Homo sapiens: one gene and its partners. The protein of the gene in region 3 purifies or fractionates together with the protein of the main gene of each other region. This does not show direct contact. Each region holds a gene or a part of one and is shown on either strand. Other genes may lie near its edges.

Region 1 (4,789 bases), on a different chromosome or scaffold from region 3:
GCCAGGGAGGGCAGTCACTGGGCCGAAGAGCGGGTGGGGAGAAACAAGGCCAGGGAGAGAGCTGGAAAGGGCATATCTGGGGAAGAGGAGTATCTGGAGAGGGGAGCGACCAAGTAGTGTGTAGCTGTGCTGGGGAGATAGCTGGGCAGGGGAACAGCAGGGAGGAGGAGGAGTGGGGAAGAGGGAGCAGTGCGGGAGGAGATTAGCTGGGGAAGGTGCCACCAGGACAGATCCTGTGGGGCCACTCACATCCATGAACTGGACCGGCTTGCTCCCAGGAGCAGGACCACGACTGGGCAGGAAGCCCTCACGTTCTTGCCTGTAGCTGGATAGGGCAGGGAAATAGGGGCCGATAAGAGGGAAATCCTGACCCCTGATCCCTGAGCCCACCTCCTTGGACCCCTGACTCACCCCACAGCATCCGAAGGGAGGGCTCCATTCATCTTTGGATCCTGCAGTTCCATCCTGTGGGCAAAGAAATGGGGTGGGGGGATCAGAGATGGAACGAGCATGCTTCAAAGTGAGGGGAGCTGAAGAAGGGGGGAGGGGAGTCCCATAGAGACCGATGGAAAGACGGAGAAAGAGACAAGGCAGGGGAGCAGGAACAGACAGGGATAGAAATGGAGGCAGACTGACAGAGAAAGAGATGAGAGAGAGAGAAGAACAAAAATCAGAGAAGGAGAGAAGCCAACAGTTAGTTACTCAGAGAGACACAGAGAGAGCCAGTGAGAGAGAAATAGTGGGGAAGAGAGAGACAGAAAGCTACAGAGAGAGCCGGACCCCAGCGCAGATGAGCCGACCACGTGGAGAAGGGATAGCCTCTCCTCCCAGACCCCAGACTCACGCTGTCTCTCTTGCCATCTGTGTCTTTCATTCCCCGGTCCCCCGCGCCACCCCCTCTCCTTCCCTCCACCCTCACCGCGTGGCCAGGCGGCTCACTCCTTGCAGGGACACGTGTCGGCCTGGCTGCCCCACCCCTCCTAATGCCCTCACCCCCCTCCTTCCCGCCTGGGCCCCCAAGCCCGAGACCAGAGCTAATGCAACCTGTTGAGTGAGCTGAGGGTTGGGGACAGACTCGGAGACCCCTGCCCCAGACGCTGCAAACTGCTCTCTGCCACGACTCTGAATATCCTCACTAGAAGCCAAAGACAAGTGCCCGAACCGAGCCCCTTCCCAGGGACAGAAATGACCCAGGGACTCCCATTTGACCCCAATTCTAGGGCCTAGAGGTCTTTTCCAGGGCCCCTAGCAAGTCTTAAACACTCATCTTCTGGCAGAAGTCAATTTGGAGACACTGCCAGACTTGAGAAACTTCCTAGGTGTGGGGTGTGGGGTGTCTCAGGAACCTGGCCCGAGCCCTCATTTCCCTCCGGAGGAAGAGCTATTTCTGAGACCTTCATCAAAGACCCCCTCCCGTGGCCTACCGAGTTTCCTGGGGTGGGGGTGTCTCTGCAATCCCCACCCGAGCCTGGAGCCCCTGTCTTGTAGGTACAGCGTCTCTGAAGAAACCCCAGCTCCCTCCCGCGCTTACTCCTTGGGAAGGAGGTATCTCAGAAACCCCCATTCAAGGTCCCCATTAGAGCTCAAACTGGCTCAGGAAATCCTTTTCCCAAGTCCTGAATCCCGTTCCTGGGACAGGGAGGGTCTCAAGGAGTCCCATCCCCCACCACCAGCACCCTCCGGAGCCTCCCACCCACACCTGAATTCACTTCCTGGGATCAGGGTACAAAAAGGACCTCCCCATACACGCCATTCCATTCCCCACTAGTGCTAAAATGTCTCCAAGGAACCCCGAGCCCCCTCCCAGGACCCCTACTCATATCTCAGGCCCCCAGGAACACCATCCCCGCAGCCCACGCTCCCTCCTCACCTACCTGCTCCTCTCAGCTCCTGAAGTGGCCGCAACTCAGACTCAGGTTCGGGCACCCTCTCGGCTGCCTAGGCTCCTGCTCTGGAGCGGTACTTTTTTTTTTTTCCTGAGAAGAAATGTTAATTTTAATTTCGTTTCCCTCCTTCTGGCCCTGGGCGGGGGAAGAGGTGGAGAAGGGGCGCCCCCTATCTGGACCCACTTGGAGGGAGACAGCGGTTTGTTTGTGTGTTGATGGTGGGGGAAATGGCCTGAAAGATTGAGGGTGTAGACCCACAGCTAGAGAGAGTGACAGGCAGACAGAGGGGATGGACTCACAGAGCAGACGGACAGCAGGATGGGATGGATGGCAGAAAAAGGTGCAGAGAGGAGACAGAGAGAGAGTAGGAGAACTGAAGTTACAAAGAAAGCAGGCATGAGAAACAGCACAGGAACAGACAGACCACAGAAGGGACAGAAAGACAGATGGGCGGGAGGAGGGGATGCTAGGGGAGCTTGGAAGACAGGCAGAGACAGGGAGAAAGGGACACACAGGCAGACTCAGAAACAAACAGGTGGGTAGGGATAGGCTCGTGGAAACACCTGCAGAAAGGCAACAGGCAATTGGGCTCAGTCATAGACAGGAGACACAGGCTGGCCAAGAGGTGGGGGACAGAGCCAGACAGCTCCCCAAACAGAGGGTAGGACCAGACACACCAGCTCAGAGAGATGAAGGGGCAGAGAGAGTGGTTGAGGCAGAGAGACTCCTGGAGGGACAGGAGAAAAGAGGCAGAGAGAGGCAGATTCAGGCAGAGAGGCCTGGGGACAGCAGGGGAACAGGTGCAGGGGTAGTAGCCAGGCTATTCCAGGCAGACCTCAGGCAGACAGCCTAGGCACGAGAGGACCCTAGATCTTGGGGGCCCCCAGAGGGAGGCAGGGAGGGCATTTGTGGCTGGGTGGGGAATGTGGACTGTGAACTCACACTGTCCGCAAACTGGGCGGGCACTGTAGTCCTGGACCCCACCCCAAGCGTGGGGTGGGGCTTGTCCAAGCCCTGAGAAGTCCCACTATCTGTCTGTCCGTCTGTCTTCTATGGGAGTCCGTCTGTTCACTCCCCTCCAGGCATATGACAGGCATGCCTGTCCCAGGCAAGCCACGTGTCCGCTACAGGATGTCAGGCAGGGTGGACTTGGGGTCTGGGACCACCTCGACTGGGCTGCTTGAAGCCCAGGTGGACAAGAGGCCTCTGTCTGGGCCCCTCGCCCGCCTGCCCACCCCCGACAGGGAACACAGAATTCCCGGAAAGGCCAGGAGCTGGCTGGGGCTTCAAAGCTGGCCTAGATGCCCTCACCCCACCCACAGTTGGAGGAGGACAAGGGATGGGGCGTTTACTTCCCCACAGCGGGAGAGAGACTCCTGCACACTCAGGAATCGCAGCTACACAACAGGACCCATCACAGCCCCATCAAGGGGCTCAGATACGGGGGCCAACTCGCCATCACTCACAGAGGTGCACAAAGACTCACAGCCACACAAGAGAATAAAGACTGACAGACATGAACACACACAGACTCACCACTGCACGTTAAGAGCAATGGCTCATGGGACAGTCACACACGTGGCCACACAGAGTGACGATAGTCTTACAGCTATCAATACCGACAGGCTCAGAGCCGCTCACAGAGAGCACAGACTAACACAGGGATAGGCTTGTGCCGATTTCCAGACACTCGAGACTCCTGAACCTCACCGCCCGTGGACCCACAGCCATGCCAAAGACAATCAACAGGCAAATCACACACACAGATTCACAGCCACACACAGAGCACACAATTACACACAGCTGATGACATTGTGTGTGGGTCCTGGGTCTTTCCCACACACACGATCCAGGTTCAGATGGCCCTGGATCTGAACCTGAATCCAGGTTCAGATGACCCTGGAGGCAAACTTCCAGGTTCAAGCCCTAAAATGATATCTCTGTGTATGTGAACTTGAATGTGCACTTGTGACCACATGTAACCACATACAGCTCCAGTCACAGAGAGAGGCACTCATAGGCTGACATGATTTTTGTACAAACAGAAAAGCCATAGTCTCCTTCTCTCTCTCTCTCCTCTCTCTCTCTCTCTCACACACACACACACACACAACTGCATTTCAGCAAATGGCTGCACACAGCCGTGTACACACACAGCTAGTCACAAATCAAGTCAGAAAAGAAACATATAGGGAAAGCATATACCTGCACACAAACACAAAGCACAGGAATGCAGAGTACGCTTACTATCGTTGCAAAGAAAAAATCCAGAAACCACACTGAAAGCTACACAAGGAAAAAACAAGAGAACCAGATAGTACTCATACCATGGCACCAGAAGAAACACCCCGAGGGCACACATACCTGCAGCCACTCGCTAAGAAGAGACACAAATACAGCAGCAGACACACAAAGAAAGATACGTGCGCATAGATACACATATAGGAGGGACAAGTACTCTGACACACTTGTCACCCACGACCATTACAAAGGAGACAAACACCCAAGCAACACACACACACAACAACATATAGATGAACTGCACCGACAGACAGTACCAATGCACACGGTTGCCAAAAAAAAAAAAAAAAAAAAGGTATGAGTTGGGCCGGGTGCAGTGGTTCATGCCTGTAATCCCAGCACTTTGGGAGGCCAAGGTGAGTGAATCATGAGGTCAGTAGTTCGAGACCAGCCTGGCCAACGTGGCGAAACCCCGTCTCTACTAAAAATACAAAAAAAATTAGCTGGGCGTGGTGGCGGGTTCCTGTAATCCCAGCTACTCGGGAGGCTGAGGCAAGAGAATTGCTTGAACCTGGAAGGCGGAGGTTGCAGTGAGCCAAGATCGCGCCACTGCACTCCGGCCCAAGCGACAGAGTGAGACTCCATCTCAAAAAAAAAAAAAA
Region 2 (4,316 bases), on a different chromosome or scaffold from region 3:
CTCTAAATTTTGTATACATGGGCGGATTTTCTCTCAAGATCTCTGGAAGACCAAAGAGGATTTTTTTTTTTTTTTTTTTTGAGATGGAGCTTCACTCTTATTGCCCACGCTGGAGTGCAATGGCGCGATCTTGGCTCACTGCAACCTCCGGCTCCCGGGTTCAAGTGATTCTCCTGCCTCAGCCTCCCCAGTAGCTGAGATTACAGGCATGCATCACCATGCCCGCTAATTTTGTATTTTTAGTAGAGACGGGGTTTCTCCATGTTGGTCAGGCTGGTCTCGAACTCCCGACCTCAGGTGATCCACCCGCCTCGGCCTCCCAAAGTGCTGGGATTACAGGCGTGAGCTGCCGCACCTGGCCTCAAACAGGATTTGTAAGACAAGGAGTGACAATGATTTATATTTTCAAAAGGACCAGCAGCTGCCATTTGAAAAACTAAAAGTGGGTTAGGATGAGAGCAGGAGGACCAGTTGCCAGGCCACTGCAGACGAGGCTGCGCATATGAGTCATGCCCACAGTCCCACGGGCAAGCAGTGAGAGACGAGGGCTTGTTCAGATGACAGCAGTTACGCTGGAGAAAAGTGGGGAGGCTCTGCCTGTATCAGGACTCAGTGGCAGACTGGATGTGAGGGGTGAGGAGAGGGGAGGAAGGAAGGTAACTCCCGGATTTTAGACATGAGCAACTGGGCAGAAGGTGGTACTATTTATTTAGATGGCTAAGAGTGGGGTGGACTGGTGTCGGGGGAAGGAGGAAATCAGGAGCCCACATTGGGAAGGGGGACAGGTGACTGGCCTAGAGACGCAGATTGAGGATCCCTGGCATATGGGTTGTACTTAAAGCCATAGGACTGGCTGAGATCCTGAAGGGCTAGTGTGTCAAAAGAAAACAGAGTGGGCTAGCGCCCGAGTCTAGTATACTCCAATGTTTTAGAGGAGGAGGTCACAAAGAAATAACAAAGGAGCTGCCAGGTTAGTGAGTGGGGTGATGCTACGGAAGTAAGTGTTCTGAGGAAGAGGAGGGAGGTACTGACTCTTTCAAATGCTGCTGTAAGGACAAAAAAAAAAAAATCAGAAAAGAGAAATGACCTTTGGATTTGGCAAGAGGACAGTCACTGGTGATCTTGACTAAAGCAGTCCCAGTGGGGCCAAGCCTGGAAGGAACAGAGCGAACAGAGAACTTGCAGGGAGAAAGCCAACTCTTTTTTTTTTTTTTTTGAGATGGAGTCTCACTCTGCCACCAGGCTGGAATGCAGTGGCGCGATCTTGGCTCATTGCAACCTTCAGCTCCCTGGTTCAAACGATTCTCCTGCCTCAGCCTCCCGAGTAGCTGGGATCACAGGCATGCACCATCGCGCCCAGCTAATTTTTGTATTTTTAGTAGAGATGGGGTTTTGCCATGTTGGCCAGGCTGGTCTCGATCTCCTGACTTTGTGATCCGCCCACCTTGGCCTCCCAAAGTGCTGGGATTACAGGCGTGAGCCACCGCGCCCGGCCGAAAGCCAACTCTTTAAAGGAGTTTTGCTGGGAAGGGGTGCAGAGAAATAGGATAGTAGGTGGAAGGGAAAGTGAGATTAGCAGATTTTTTGTTTTTAAAAGATAGGAAATGTAACATGTATAGGCTGATGAGAGTAGTGGTTAAAGAGGGGAACTGCTGATGGAGGTGGGAGAGAAGATGGTTATAGCAGCAACATCCCTGAGCAGGCAGGACGGAATGGGGCCAAGAGCACAGTGGACAGGTGGATTGAGAGATGCAGAAACCCTTTTCCACTGTAACAAGAGAGAATAGAGTTGGTACAGATTTGAAGAGGCTGGTTGTTTGGGGGTGGGAGGATGACAGTGTTCTTGTCTGATTTCTTGGAGAAGAATGAGGCCAGGTCACAAGCTAAGGTGTGAGTATGATGGGACAGGCAAGAGCAGATGCTGGAGGTTTCAGGAAGAAAAGAAAGAGCAATAGCATTGCTAGGTGGCACCAATTACCTCTATGAGATTTGTGGTCATGAGTTCAGTGTGAGAGCATTTGGCACTGTTTTGTGTTTTTGCCCAGTGATGTTTGCTATATCAGATAGAGGCATATAACTGGGTTTTACTAGAGAGTTTGCTATGAAAGTAAGAAAGCATGAGGGAATAAGGAAAGGTAATAATGACATACCACAAAAACTCAAATCAGAAAACTCAAACGCTCAAAAACAGAACTCAAAAACACACAGAGTAAGGAGGAAGGTGAGGACATGTTCGGTGTGACTGATGTTGAGAAAGTGGAGGCATCAATAACTCTAAGGACTTGATGAAGACAAAAATGACTGGAATAAAAGAGAATACTGAGGTGGGAGGAAGGAGGCAGTAAACAGGGCGGATGCCTTGTTGAGATTCCAAGGGCAGTGCAGATACAGGGCAGATGGTGACTTGACCATGGGATCAGGTGGCTGAGGAAGCTGAGGAATAGAAAGATTGAGGATAGATGGATCATCCACATGGTGACTGATGCCTCCAAAAGCAGAGTCAGGAACAGGGGCTCAAAAGGAGCAGTAAGCCAGGTGTTAAAGTCATCAGTGGGTGAGGGACAGAAGATGGGGAATGGGGATTCAAGACCAGTAGAAGAAAAGCTGGGGACTGGAGTTTCATCTCAGATTTGTGTGTTCACGTTACGGCCTCTAGATAATAGCATCTTAAAGAAGTGAAACAGGGAAGGTTTTCTGTCTTTTCTCCTACTTTGTCTTTCCACCAGATAGCATGAAGTCTCTTATGTCTTATGTCTCTTATGAGGTCTAAGGCGGACATGGTGATGGGGACACACAGCTTTGTGAAGACTAATGCTATCAGGTTTCACTATGCTTTAGAGAAGCAGGATGAGGCCTAGGGTTGGGCTAGGCCTAGGGTTGACCCAGCATGGGAGTTCCTGGCACTGCTCTGTCTGCCCAGGCTGATGATGGTCCAAGCTGCAGCTGCTGAGGGAACCCAGGCATCCTGGTGGACCCTTTTGATTAAAATAGAGCAGAAGGAGGCCAGGCGCAATGGCTCATGCCTGTAATCTTAGCACTCTGGGAGGCTAAGGCGGGCGGATCACTTGGGGTCAGGAGTTTGAGACCAGCATGGCCAACATGACGAAACCCTGTCTCTACTATGGAAATTAGCTGGGCATGGTAGTGCATGCCTGTAATCCCAGCTACTCGGGAGGCTGAGGTGGGAGAATCACTTGAACCCTGGAGGTGGAGGTTGCAGCGAGCTGAGATTGTGCCACTGCACTCCAGTCTGGTGGACAGAGTGAGACTCCATCTCAAAAAAAAAAAAAAAAAAAAAAAAAAAGCAGAGGGAGATAATTAAAAATTTTTAATTCCTTCGAGATTTTAATTTGTAAGTACAGAATTTATATTATGGGATCGAATTTTTTTCTCTGGGAACTTAATATTGTAGGTGAGGATGGTAGTGTCACTGTATAAGTGTAGGCACCTTTCATTGCATCATTTAGGCTTAGTGCGTTAATTACTTCTGGGAGCTACACTTGACAACATGAATGGAACAGAAAGTGAACTTGGGGGCCAGTGAGGCCTTGTAAAGAACATCACTAACATCCTGTTCCAATCCACTCAGAAGCTTTTGAGGGCAAGCACTACTGTCTGCTTCACTGGCCTAGGAAGACAGAGCATAAGCTACAGTGGAAGGCAGAGGGAGAGGCCTCACTCAACAGGCAGCAGAATTTGTGTGCGCACGACTCTTCTCCCCACCGCCACACACATGAAATGCTTCCTGCCCCCTGCCCTTTACTCTCACTAGGTCCTTTTCAAGGATGGAAGAGCCTGCATCTGACTGGACAGAGGCGGAGATGTTCACTGGGCCACATTTTATCACAGGGCAGTGGGCCGAGATGGTCCTTGTGCTCGTGGTTCCAGCTCTTCGGCCTGCTCTTTGGTCCTGCCCATCACAGATCTGAAGGGCAGGGGTGCAGAAGGAACCACAGGTAGGGCCCTGGTCTGATCTGCAGGTTCCATCACGACTGATCAGAGACGGCAGGAACAGGCACCTAGCTCCTGAGAACACAGTGGCTCATTTCCTAAACAGCTTTTGTTACTCAGGTGTGTGCTTCCTTGAGTGCAAAGCCAAGCACCTTAACCGAACCTCCCACCTCATCAGTATTGTTATTAATGATGATGAAGACACTGGGCGCAGTGGCTCACGCCTGTAATCCCAGCACTTTGGGAGGCTGAGTCAGGCAGATAACCTGAGGTCAGGAGTTTGAGACAAGCCTGGCCAACATGGTGAAACCCCGTGCCTACAAAAATTAGCCAGGCATGATGGTGGGTGTCTTTAATCCCAGTTA
Region 3 (5,764 bases):
TTGAGTTCATAACAATGTCCCAGGCATTGCCAAGCACTTTTTCCTCAATTTTGCCTCACTTAACTTCACGTCATCTCTATGAGGTAGGTACATTTTACAGAGCCTTGGGCGGCTTAAGTAATCTTCCAAAGGTTGCAGAGCTGGCCTGGAGACTAAGGCACCTTCAACGCTCCCTCTACCCCAACAGAGGCCCCTCATTGTGCTTTCTCAGCAGCCCAAAGAGTCATCTTTGCTCCATTTACGTGAGGAAACTGAGGCTCAAGAGGCTACCCTCCCGCCAGCTGCCCTGTCTCCTGGAGATGTCTGAAGATCCCATCATGTTTCTGGCAGGAGCTCACATTAGGGGTCTAAACCTTGAGATCAAGTTCTCTGTCCCTCTCCCCTGCCACTGTGGCTGTAAGATGGGGATAATGAAGGTACCTACCTAATGGGGTTATTGTGAGCATTCAATGAGCAGATACTTTTAAGGGCTTAGAACAGTTCCTGGTATACAGTAGGTTCTCTCTAAGTGCTTGCCATGACTATGGCAGGAGTGCCCTCTTTGGAGCCAGGCACTGTAGAGCTTTCTTGCTGCCATGTGGGCCCAGGGCAGCCTGGAACCGGGCATGGCAGCTCCTTGGTCCTCTTGGTACCTGACCACTACCAATGCCACTCAACATTGTGTCGTGGGGAGTCTGGCTGAGGGAAGGAAGGGCGCAAGGACACAAATTCTAGACCACCCAATGCCCGTCCCTTCCTTCACCTTCACTTCCTCATTCCCGAAGAGAAAGAGGATGAGGAAGCTGGAGCCTCTTCGCAGGGCCAGGTGGGGCCACCGGGCCTCCCTTTGCCAGCGTCCACCATGCAGGGTGTTGCAGATGACATGGGGCTTGGTGGTATGGAAGCGAGGGTTGAAGTGGAAGGCGATATCTGGCCGGGGACACAGGCTGCAGCCACACTGGAAGTCCACCTGAAACCTACTGGGAGGTGAGGCTCTCAAAGTGCGGTTCTGACCAGAGACCCACAGAGATCTCAGTGGCAGGGAGGAGCCCTCCAGCTCGATGCCTCTAGGGCTGAGCTCCAGCACCCCCTGGGCCACCTCCCCCGCCTTACCTGTGTGCATCTAGAGGGACCACTCCTTGCAGCATGACCATCTTGCCTGCATGCAGGCCTCCAAAAATCGTCGTGACATAAGGAACCACCTGAACAAGAAAAGAAACTCATCCATGCAGGTTTGGAGAAAGGGCTTAGGGACCTCTATGTCAGGCGAGTGGGAGGAAAGGAGCAGAATAAAACTCAACTTTTCCTCTCCAAACAGAAAATTCCTTATAGGTAAAAATCAGTGTTCACTGAAATATTTTCTTCCACCTAATCCCCTTTCCTGGACCGTCACACGGCAAAGCTGCATTACACCAGAGAAGTCAAATTCCGCTCCCTTGCCAAATTCAGCACCAGCCAGTTGCCTTTCCCCAGCTCCTAGGACACAACAGGCTGCAGTGACCCCAGGGAGGCTTGCCATCCACTAGATGTCACCCTGGTCCCCAGAAGCCTGGTACTGGGGCTTTCTGAGGACTGTTGAGTGGCTGGAGACTAGGAACTGGGAGGCAAGAAGAATGGACAAGTTAGGAACTGACAGCTAACTCTGAAATGGACCCCTGGAGAGGCACTTAACAATGGCCTTCCCAGGCTCACCTTTCCCCATGTAGAAGTTACCTGGGCTGGGCTCTGTGGCTCATGCCTGTAATCTCAGCACTCTGGGAAGCTGAGGCGGGTGGATCAACTTGAGGTCAGGAGTTCGAGACCAGCTTGGCCAACATGGTGAAACCCTATCTCTACTAAAAATACAAAAATTAGCTGGGTGTGGTGGCATGCACCTCTAATCCCAGCTACTCAGGAGGCTGAGGCAGGAGAATTGCTTGAGCCTGGGAGATGGAGGAGGTTGCAGTGAGCTGAGATCATGCCACTGTACTTCAGCCTGGGCGAAAAAGCAAGACTTGGTCTCAAAAAAAAAAAAAAAAAAAAAAAAAAAGAAGTTGCCTGGCCTTCCTAAAATACATCATACAGTTTTACAACTTCCTGCCTTTTCTGGGCTGTTCCTCCTGTCTCTTTCCACCCTGACTCTTTCCAAGCATCATCCACTTGGGTTCCTTGGATTATTCCTTTCTTCCCCTGAGCTCCCAGGGCATTTTGCTCATGTGGCTGGCTTGGCCCTTGGCTTAGAGCGACTGGTTGGCTTTTTTCCCTAGTTTATAAGCCCCTCAAAACTGAAGCCTTCTCTTTCCCTCCTGTAGGCTCAGTGCCTCACCTGACGCCGTGAGGGCTCTGCATAGATGTGTTTGGAATGAATGTGAGCAGGATGGCAGGTACATACCAGTGGTATCACAGGATTGGCCTTCCTGTGTTGCTCTCTAACTCCCAACAACCTTTAGGAACCCAAACCACCTAGAAAAAACTGAAAACCACCAGGATGGCCCTCCAGGTGCGAGCTCTCAGCCTCTAAAGCAAGGAGCTGCCGTAACCTGGGCAGCTGCTTCAGCCCATTCCTCAGGCACCTGAGAAGCATGGGAGGGAGGCTTGGGATGCCAGCTTGGCAAGCTCAGCTGGTTGGTTCAGCAGTTGATCACTTCCCATTCCCAGGCTCCCTCCAGGCCTGTAATTAACTGAGTGGATGCAGCTCTCATGGGAGGGGAGGGCCAAGTAAGGGAAAGTGATAATTAATGCTCATTAGTAGGGGGTGTCTGCTGGGAATTCAGCCTTCTGTAAATCATTGCCTGGCTTCAGAAAACCTCTTGGGCACTGACTGAGCTGGAGGAGAAAGAGAGAAACACCCCCAACCCCTATCCCTGAGTGGAAATTCCCACCTGACCCTTCCTTCCAGGCTGGGGATGAGACTGTCCTTACTAAGTAATCAGCATTCCCCCAACAATCCTACCCCCACACCCTCATCCTCCTAGCATCCATTACAGTAGGGGCAGAGCACTGTGGCTCCAGGCTTCGCCACTTTCAAAATGCAGTGACCCTGGAAGCCTAGCAGTCATTTACACCCAAGTGGGAATTAGCAGTCAGCCACTTTACTAAGCTCAGGAGGGCCTTCCAGAACCCAGGGCAGGTGCTGGGAGAAGCAGAAAGACTGAGGTCCTTTCCACCCCACCACCCAGGAGTGTGGGCCCAGTTGGAAGGGAAGAGCCCAGAGACCGAGGAGGTTCCACATTAGAGTGACAACTCACCGGGTGGAAGACTGGTGGTTGCAGAATGAAGCTGTCAGGAATTGGGTCCAGTTTTTCTCCAGGTGACATGACAGTGGGGCAACTCCAACTGTAGATCCTCGTTCCAGGAGCCCTGCCCCCACTGGGCTGACTCATCTGCCCCAGTCAGGGTCCTAAATGCCTGGAGCAGCTCTCCCAGCTGTTAGTCTCACCTGCGACCTGCAGCGTTTTAATGCTGTCTGGAGCAGCCCTAGGAGGGCAGCGGGCGACCTCCAGGCTCCACACCAGCCCCACTCCCGGTGGTATACAGCAGAGCTCTGGCTGGGCGGGGGCTGTCAGCAGAACTCAGTGTCCAGGGGAGGAAGACTGGCATTAACCAACTAACTACCCACTCCGGGTCTGCAGCACATGGCCATTGCAGAGAGAAGCCAGAGGCTGGCTCCTGTGGGGCCAACGAGGGTTTGTGGTTTCCAACTCGAGCCCTCATTAGGTCAGAGGAAGGGGAGGTGGTACGTGTGCTTAGGTTCCAGAAACAGCCCCACCCCCAGCTCCCTGGACAGCCTTGGGTGACTTCCCATTCCTTCCTCCCTTCACCACAAAGGGTTTTATCTCTTCCCCTCATTTTCTTTTTTTTTTTTTTTTTTTGAGATGGAGTCTTGCTCTCTTGCCAGGCTGCAGCGCAGTGGCGCGATCTCAGCTCACTGCAGCCTCCGCCTCCTGGGTTCAAGCAATTCTCCTGCCTCATCCTCTCTGGGACTACAGGCATGTGCCACCACGCCCGGCTAATTTTTGTATTGTTAGTAAAGACTGAGTTTCACCATGTTGGCCAGGATGGTCTCGATATCCTGACCTCGTGATCCGCCCGCCTTGGCCTCCCAAAGTGCTGGGATTACAGGCATGAGCCACCACGCCTGGCTCTCTTCCTCTCATTTTCTTGCCCCTTCCTCTACTCTTCTTCCTTTTCCAAGTTTTACAGCCCCCTGAGGCTCCATTTCAGCATCAGCTGGAAATGCTGGGGCCCAGCTGGGGTCACAAGAAAGTAGAATGAGGGAAGGGGAAAAAGCAGAGCCCCTTAAGCTTGGAAAAGGCAGCACAAGAAGCACAGAACTGCGCAGGAGGGAGACTTGAAACTTGACTTCCTCTTCAGCCTCTCGTCTAATGTGCTGTGTGCCCTTGGGAAAGTCACTTCCTATCTCTGGGCCACCCTTTGTTCATCTGTACATGGAGAAAGTGACCATAGCAGCATGTCCCACAGCGAGGCCTGTATCTGGGGGTGGGCCCAAATATCTGCATTTTACTACAGTCCTTCCAGTTCTGGTTCAAATCCCAATAAGGCTTTCCCTTTAAAAAGCAGCACAACCTCTCAACTTTATCCTGAGTTAGGAGGTTCCAGGATCTGACCCATTGCATCAGACTTGGCAGCAGGGAATTCCTGGACCAGGACCAGGCTGGGCAAAGGCTCAAGCGCATGGGGTGCTGAGGGCAGAGTAAGCAGCTCCCTGGATGGAGGGAGAGTGCATGAAGGGTCCTGGGATAAGGTATCTTAGCCAGTGCTACCTAAGCTGTGGTCCACAAGCCACCAGCATCAGCCTCACCTGGAAACTTGTTAAAAATGCAAGTTTGGGGTCCCCACCCCAGACCAACTGAGGAGCACTCTCTGGAAGCTGGGGCCAGGAATCTGCATTTTAACAGCCCCTCCAGGTGATTCTGATGCACTTTAAAGTTTGAGAAGCATTGACTTAGGATGGAACTAGAAGGGCTTTGGGTGCGGAGCTGAGTTTGTTCAGATGTTGCCGAGTAGGTGGAGCTGGGTTACTGAAGGTGCTTATTTGGAGAAATTCAATCAGACGTGCTCAGGAAGGGTGCTCTGTATACACAGTGAGAGGAAGCTAAGGGTGGAGGGGCCAGTTTCTTGAAGAAAAGAGTCAAATTCTGAAATAGTTGAAGAGATTTATTCTGACCCAAATATGAGTGACCAATGGCCTGTGACACAGCCCCAGGAGATCCTGAGAACGTGTGCTCAAGGTTATTGAGCTAGATTTTGGTTTTATACATTTTAGGGAGACATGAGACATCAAGCAATACATGTGATATGTACATTGGTTTGGTCCAGAAAGGTGGCACAACTCGAAGAGGTGGGCTTCCAGGTCATAGGTGGATTCAAAGACTTCCTGATTGGTTATTGGTTGAAAGAGTTAAGTAAGTACCTACAGACCTGGACTCAGTAGAAGGGAGTGTCTGGGTTAAGTTAAGGGGTGTGGAGACCAAGGTTTTATCATGCAGATGAAGCCTCCAGGAAGCAGGCATCAGAGCTCTTATCAGACCTAAAAAGATGCCTGGATCAGGGAAAAGACTTGGAAAGGGAAGGGGATGCTTTGCAGAGCAGATTTTCCCCACAAGAGTGAGGTTTGCAGGGCCATTTCAAAATATGTCAAATATGTATATTAATATTTTGGGGTAAAATGGTTTAATTTCTTTCAGGGCCCTCTGTCATGTGATGCTATACTAGAGCCAGGATAGAACTTGGTGTCTTATTGCTACAATGAGTCTGTTTAGTCAGTCTTCAGATTTTTGTTTTA
Region 4 (4,316 bases), on a different chromosome or scaffold from region 3:
TTACTTTTTTCATTTATATGTTTAGTTTGCCAGTAGGGAAAGAATGGATGAAATCATGTCAACTAAAGACCTGCAGATAAGCAGAGATTGGAGCTTGGCTAAAATAGGGATTCTTTGCTGAAGCCACAAGTTTCCCTACAACCTGAGAGGAAGAGCAGCCACACTTCCTGAGTTCCATCTGAAGAGGCACAAGATGCACTAGTGCATTACTAGGGCAATGACCTCAACAGCCCTGTTAGGCTCACCTTAAAACAAACACTGTTTTGGAGTGCAGGCTTTGCATTAGACACTCAGTAATTAAGGACACAGTTTCCGCTTTCCCAGGTTGTTTATCTCTCAGATATCCTATTTCTCAATCTCTACATGTTTCTTTCTGGCAATTGAGTCATGCTTTAGCATGAAAATATGTGTTGAAATAGGTTCAAAATACCAAAATTTACCCACAGGCTAAGAATAAAATGTGGAAGAAAGGTAATTCTTGGGGAAAAACCTGGCAGAATATACACTGCTTTTCAGTATTCCTTGAAGAGCTACCTGCTTGGGAAGCATAATGGAAGCTGCGAGGCGCTTTTCAAGAAAGTTGAGTATTCTGAGATTTGATGAGGAACACATGACTATGTTATTAAACCATCCCAACTAAATATTAAGATCAGGCTGTAAATTGCAGGTAGCTGACAATGACTGAGTGACAACATGGAAAAGCTGAAACCAAAATTCTGTTTTCTTGCCATCTCTTCAGTTTTCTTGATTATCCCCTAGACTAATGACTAAAATACCATAAACCATGCTTTTGTTCTGCTATATATGGCTAATAACAGCAGTGTGGATTTAAATTATAAAATGCACTATGTTCAGGGAACATGACATTTGTTTGAACTATTCTGGGGTTCAGGGCCACAGCTTATATTTGGAAATATTTACTAATATAAGGACAGTGAGACAGTATTCTAATGTGCCCTGTCGACCTTTTAAGACTTTGCATAAAGTAGGATGCATACGAGTGCTACGGTTGGAATAAACCAGGTTTGAAGGTGGTGAAATTGCTGATTCAGGCTAGTTTCTAGGAAGATGGGGTTTGGATATACCCAGTGAAAGTAACAGCTCTCTGGAGTTGTAAAATTGGAGACTATATTTGTATATTCATGAACTAGAACAAATTGGCCTAAATGTCATATTGGTTCAAAGACTTTTAGGTACCACTAAATTAGGAAAAAAGATTACTCCATGTAGTAAAAGAATGCTAACTATACTTCAACACTGGGATCCAGGGCTGAAGTCCTAGCTGATTCTATTATGCTACCTTTCCATACTTTATATTTTTAGATACTTCCAGGGGAAGACAGATAGTTGAGCTTTGACAGGCTTCACTACATTTGGTACTATCAAAATCTCATCATGACTTCCAAAAAGTTCTTGTTCTTTACCAATTAAATTTCTGCATACTTTCTACTAAGAGATTTTAACACTGATAAATATTATGGAAGCTTTCAGCAACCACTCAGAATATTTGATCCACTACTGAGAAACACTATAGACCATCACTCATCTTTCTCTTTCTCGGGTGGCAAGTAATCAGCAACTTATTAGCAGTCACAAACTTCCAGTGTACACTTTTGCTGTCTCCTCTGTCCTGGCATCAAGAGCGAAACACATAAAGTCAGCAGGTTTTTGTGCATTGAACTAATCAGTAATCTTGAGGGCCTTTTACAACTTTGTAGTAGTAAATCAACCAGCACCCATAAAGACAGCAGCAGGGACTTTGCTGATGAATTGTTCTGAAGACTCAGGCTCATGCACTATAGGTGGCTCATGTAGTCAATGGCAGAAAAATTTATCTTTGGTTCAATTTAAAATAGAGAATAAAACAGTCTTTTCATCTACATGCAGTTGTAAGTCTTCTAAGAAAAGATAATTATTCTTCTTAGGAAAAACCATTAAGTAAACCATATGGAGAAATAATATAATAGGACATTTATAAAAATACACACCATTTTATAAGCCTTTCAGACCTATTAAATAACTATAATATCCATAATGTACAGATGTCTTTAAATACTACTCAAGTAAAAATTATTTCTGTAAGCAATATTCAATTTAGATGAATTATAGGGAATTTTTATTTTACCAAGGAAGATTTAAAAGGACCCAACTTATTAATTTTATAAATATCTTCAAGATATAATACATACTTAAAAGTTACATTAATGTTAAAGGGGCATTAAAAACAAATTAGCTAACCTAAACTGCTTCAAGACAACTAGAAAAGAAAAAAAAGTAAATGTTCAGTGATTCTTTGCTTTCCTTAAAGCCTTGATTTAAATCCTAGGCCTTGGGTCAGCGCTGCTGACACCAGCCAAAATCAGCTTAGTTATCTCAAAACAGTTGGAGAATCAAGAGGCCTTCCGTGTGAATACTTGCAATTCAATGTATTGGTATGTTGAAAAGTAAAATGCTTGTTAATCTTCACATTAGACACAAGAATGGTCACTTCCACATAATAATTTAAGTAATTATCAAAACTAATGAGAAAAATGTGTTATCTTCAATATTGAAAGCAGGTATGACTAGTATATATTTCCAGAGCACAATGTCTTAGAAAAAAAAAGAAAAAAGTGTTTAAAGTTGAATATCTTGGGAGCACTTTAAGTCACAAGATTCTGTGAGCATTTCCTCAGAATCTGTAGGCCTTCTTTACATATTTTTTAAAAACTCAATAAAACATGTTCACTGAAATTTTGTGTGTTTAGTATTATTTTTTGCTCATTGGGAAGAAAAAGAGAAAGGGAGGAAAAAAGGAAGGAAGGAGGCAGGAAGGGAAGGAAGGAAATGAACTCAAAAGGTGGGAGGGAAGAAAGGACAGAAAAAGGGAAAGGAAAAGAGAGATTAAGGAAAGAGGAGGGGAAGGGCAGATGGGGCAGGGGAGGGAAAAATGAAATGCATAAGGAAAAGGAAACTGAAAGGAAATGTATATGGTGTTATCTAGTCCTTCACCAAGTTAAAGGCAAATGGAGGGAAAAAAGTTAAGAAAGAATATACATGACTAAAATAATCAAAGAATGATACTAGTTTCTGCTTTTGGAGAGACCAAGATATATAAATACAAGAATTTATTATATTCACCACATTGGAACAATTACAAAGACATAAAAATAAAATGACTCTGTGAGTGCAGAAGGGATGCAATGAGGGACACAGGAGTGAACCATTAGATCATGGCAATGGTGAAGCAAGCCATTCTGCTATTGATGGAGCCTTGAGAATAGCATCCACATTCTGTCACAGCAGACAGTCGGGCTTTAGGAGTTTTAGGAAAAGTTACAACAATTTTCATGTTTCCTGGGGAATTAATGCAAAGCAGAGTCCGACGTAGTTAATATGGCGACAGATTGCATTTCCCAAATACCAGCACGATAATATGGTTCACTAATCACCACAAAATACTGGGTTTTTCATAATGATAATTATCTAACTCAAATAACTAGTCTTTATTATGAGATTGAGACCTTCTTGAGTTTTGGTTTAATGATGGTAACAGTAAAATATTTTAATTCGTTTGTTTCCAAGCAAAAGAAATGTGGATGATATTCTGTGGCTTGTATATATCTTTAAACCTCCTTACTTGGTGAGATAAAAAGTAGGCAACCGTTTGTGCATCTCCATATTATTTTTAAGTTTTATGGATCCTAAAATCCCATGTCCTGGAGCTATGGATATAGAACATCAACCCACACTCTCAGAGGCTGGGACCACAATAACTTAGAAACGTGGAGGACTATTATAAGAGCTATGAATTTAGAGAGATAAATAAAGAAATTCAGGCAACTGATATAATTCACTAATAATGTGGTAGGCTGGCCTTTTGAACTAAAACATGTGCTTTAAATTGAGGAATAGAAGCAGGAAGGAAGTGGACTTGGGGGATACAAGACCATTTTCAAGGCTGCCTCTTGTGGCTCTGGAAAGCATATGACTTTCTTTCAGCTACATTATGTTTATTATTGTAAAAATAATTTTAAAATTACAGGATTGAGAAATCTAAGAACATAATGCTGAAGTTATTAACTATTCCTCAAGTTATTAATACTGACCTTTGAAATTAAATGTTCCCCTTTGTTCCTTTTCCTCTCGAAAGAAACAAGAATAACTTCCCATTTGTTTGCTATTAATGATGGTGAACCTAAAGATAATTCAAGTTATTAATATAGGCTTAGTTCTCAAAACCTTAATGAAAATGAAAAGACTTAGCCATTAATAAAAATTTAAAAAGAGAAATAATTCTGTAAATATGCAAATTAGAATATTAGCATAACATTCAA

Evidence for each region.
Region 1: the proteins of LGALS12 (region 3) and SLC38A5 purify together in Homo sapiens (affinity purification with mass spectrometry; one large-scale study listed by BioGRID and IntAct). This does not show direct contact.
Region 2: the proteins of LGALS12 (region 3) and PTPRA purify together in Homo sapiens (affinity purification with mass spectrometry; one large-scale study listed by BioGRID and IntAct). This does not show direct contact.
Region 4: the proteins of LGALS12 (region 3) and EMB purify together in Homo sapiens (affinity purification with mass spectrometry; 3 studies listed by BioGRID and IntAct, with this or other methods). This does not show direct contact.

Annotation. Positions count from the first base shown.
Region 1 is NC_000023.11:48,467,461-48,472,249, forward strand, and holds the start of SLC38A5 (sodium-coupled neutral amino acid transporter 5), read right to left. Parts: upstream 2,801-4,789; 5' UTR 2,722-2,800; intron 1,977-2,721; 5' UTR 1,875-1,976; intron 1,770-1,874; exon of another isoform or gene 1,565-1,769; coding exon of another isoform or gene 1,425-1,564; intron 957-1,424; exon of another isoform or gene 862-956; coding exon of another isoform or gene 845-861; exon of another isoform or gene 781-844; intron 466-780; coding exon of another isoform or gene 465-465; coding exon 412-464; intron 326-411; coding exon 250-325; intron 1-249. UniProt on the Homo sapiens protein: Symporter that cotransports neutral amino acids and sodium ions, coupled to an H(+) antiporter activity. Releases L-glutamine and glycine from astroglial cells and may participate in the glutamate/GABA-L-glutamine cycle and the NMDA receptors activation.
Region 2 is NC_000020.11:3,029,665-3,033,980, reverse strand, and holds part of PTPRA (receptor-type tyrosine-protein phosphatase alpha isoform 1 precursor), read right to left. Parts: intron 1-4,316. UniProt on the Homo sapiens protein: Tyrosine protein phosphatase which is involved in integrin-mediated focal adhesion formation.
Region 3 is NC_000011.10:63,503,970-63,509,733, reverse strand, and holds the start of LGALS12 (galectin-12), read right to left. Parts: upstream 3,651-5,764; 5' UTR 3,342-3,650; coding exon of another isoform or gene 3,276-3,341; coding exon 3,207-3,275; intron 1,748-3,206; exon of another isoform or gene 1,182-1,747; coding exon 1,093-1,181; intron 960-1,092; coding exon of another isoform or gene 957-959; coding exon 743-956; intron 1-742. UniProt on the Homo sapiens protein: Binds lactose. May participate in the apoptosis of adipocytes.
Region 4 is NC_000005.10:50,406,789-50,411,104, forward strand, and holds part of EMB (embigin precursor), read right to left. Parts: intron 4,178-4,316; coding exon 4,089-4,177; intron 1-4,088. UniProt on the Homo sapiens protein: Plays a role in the outgrowth of motoneurons and in the formation of neuromuscular junctions.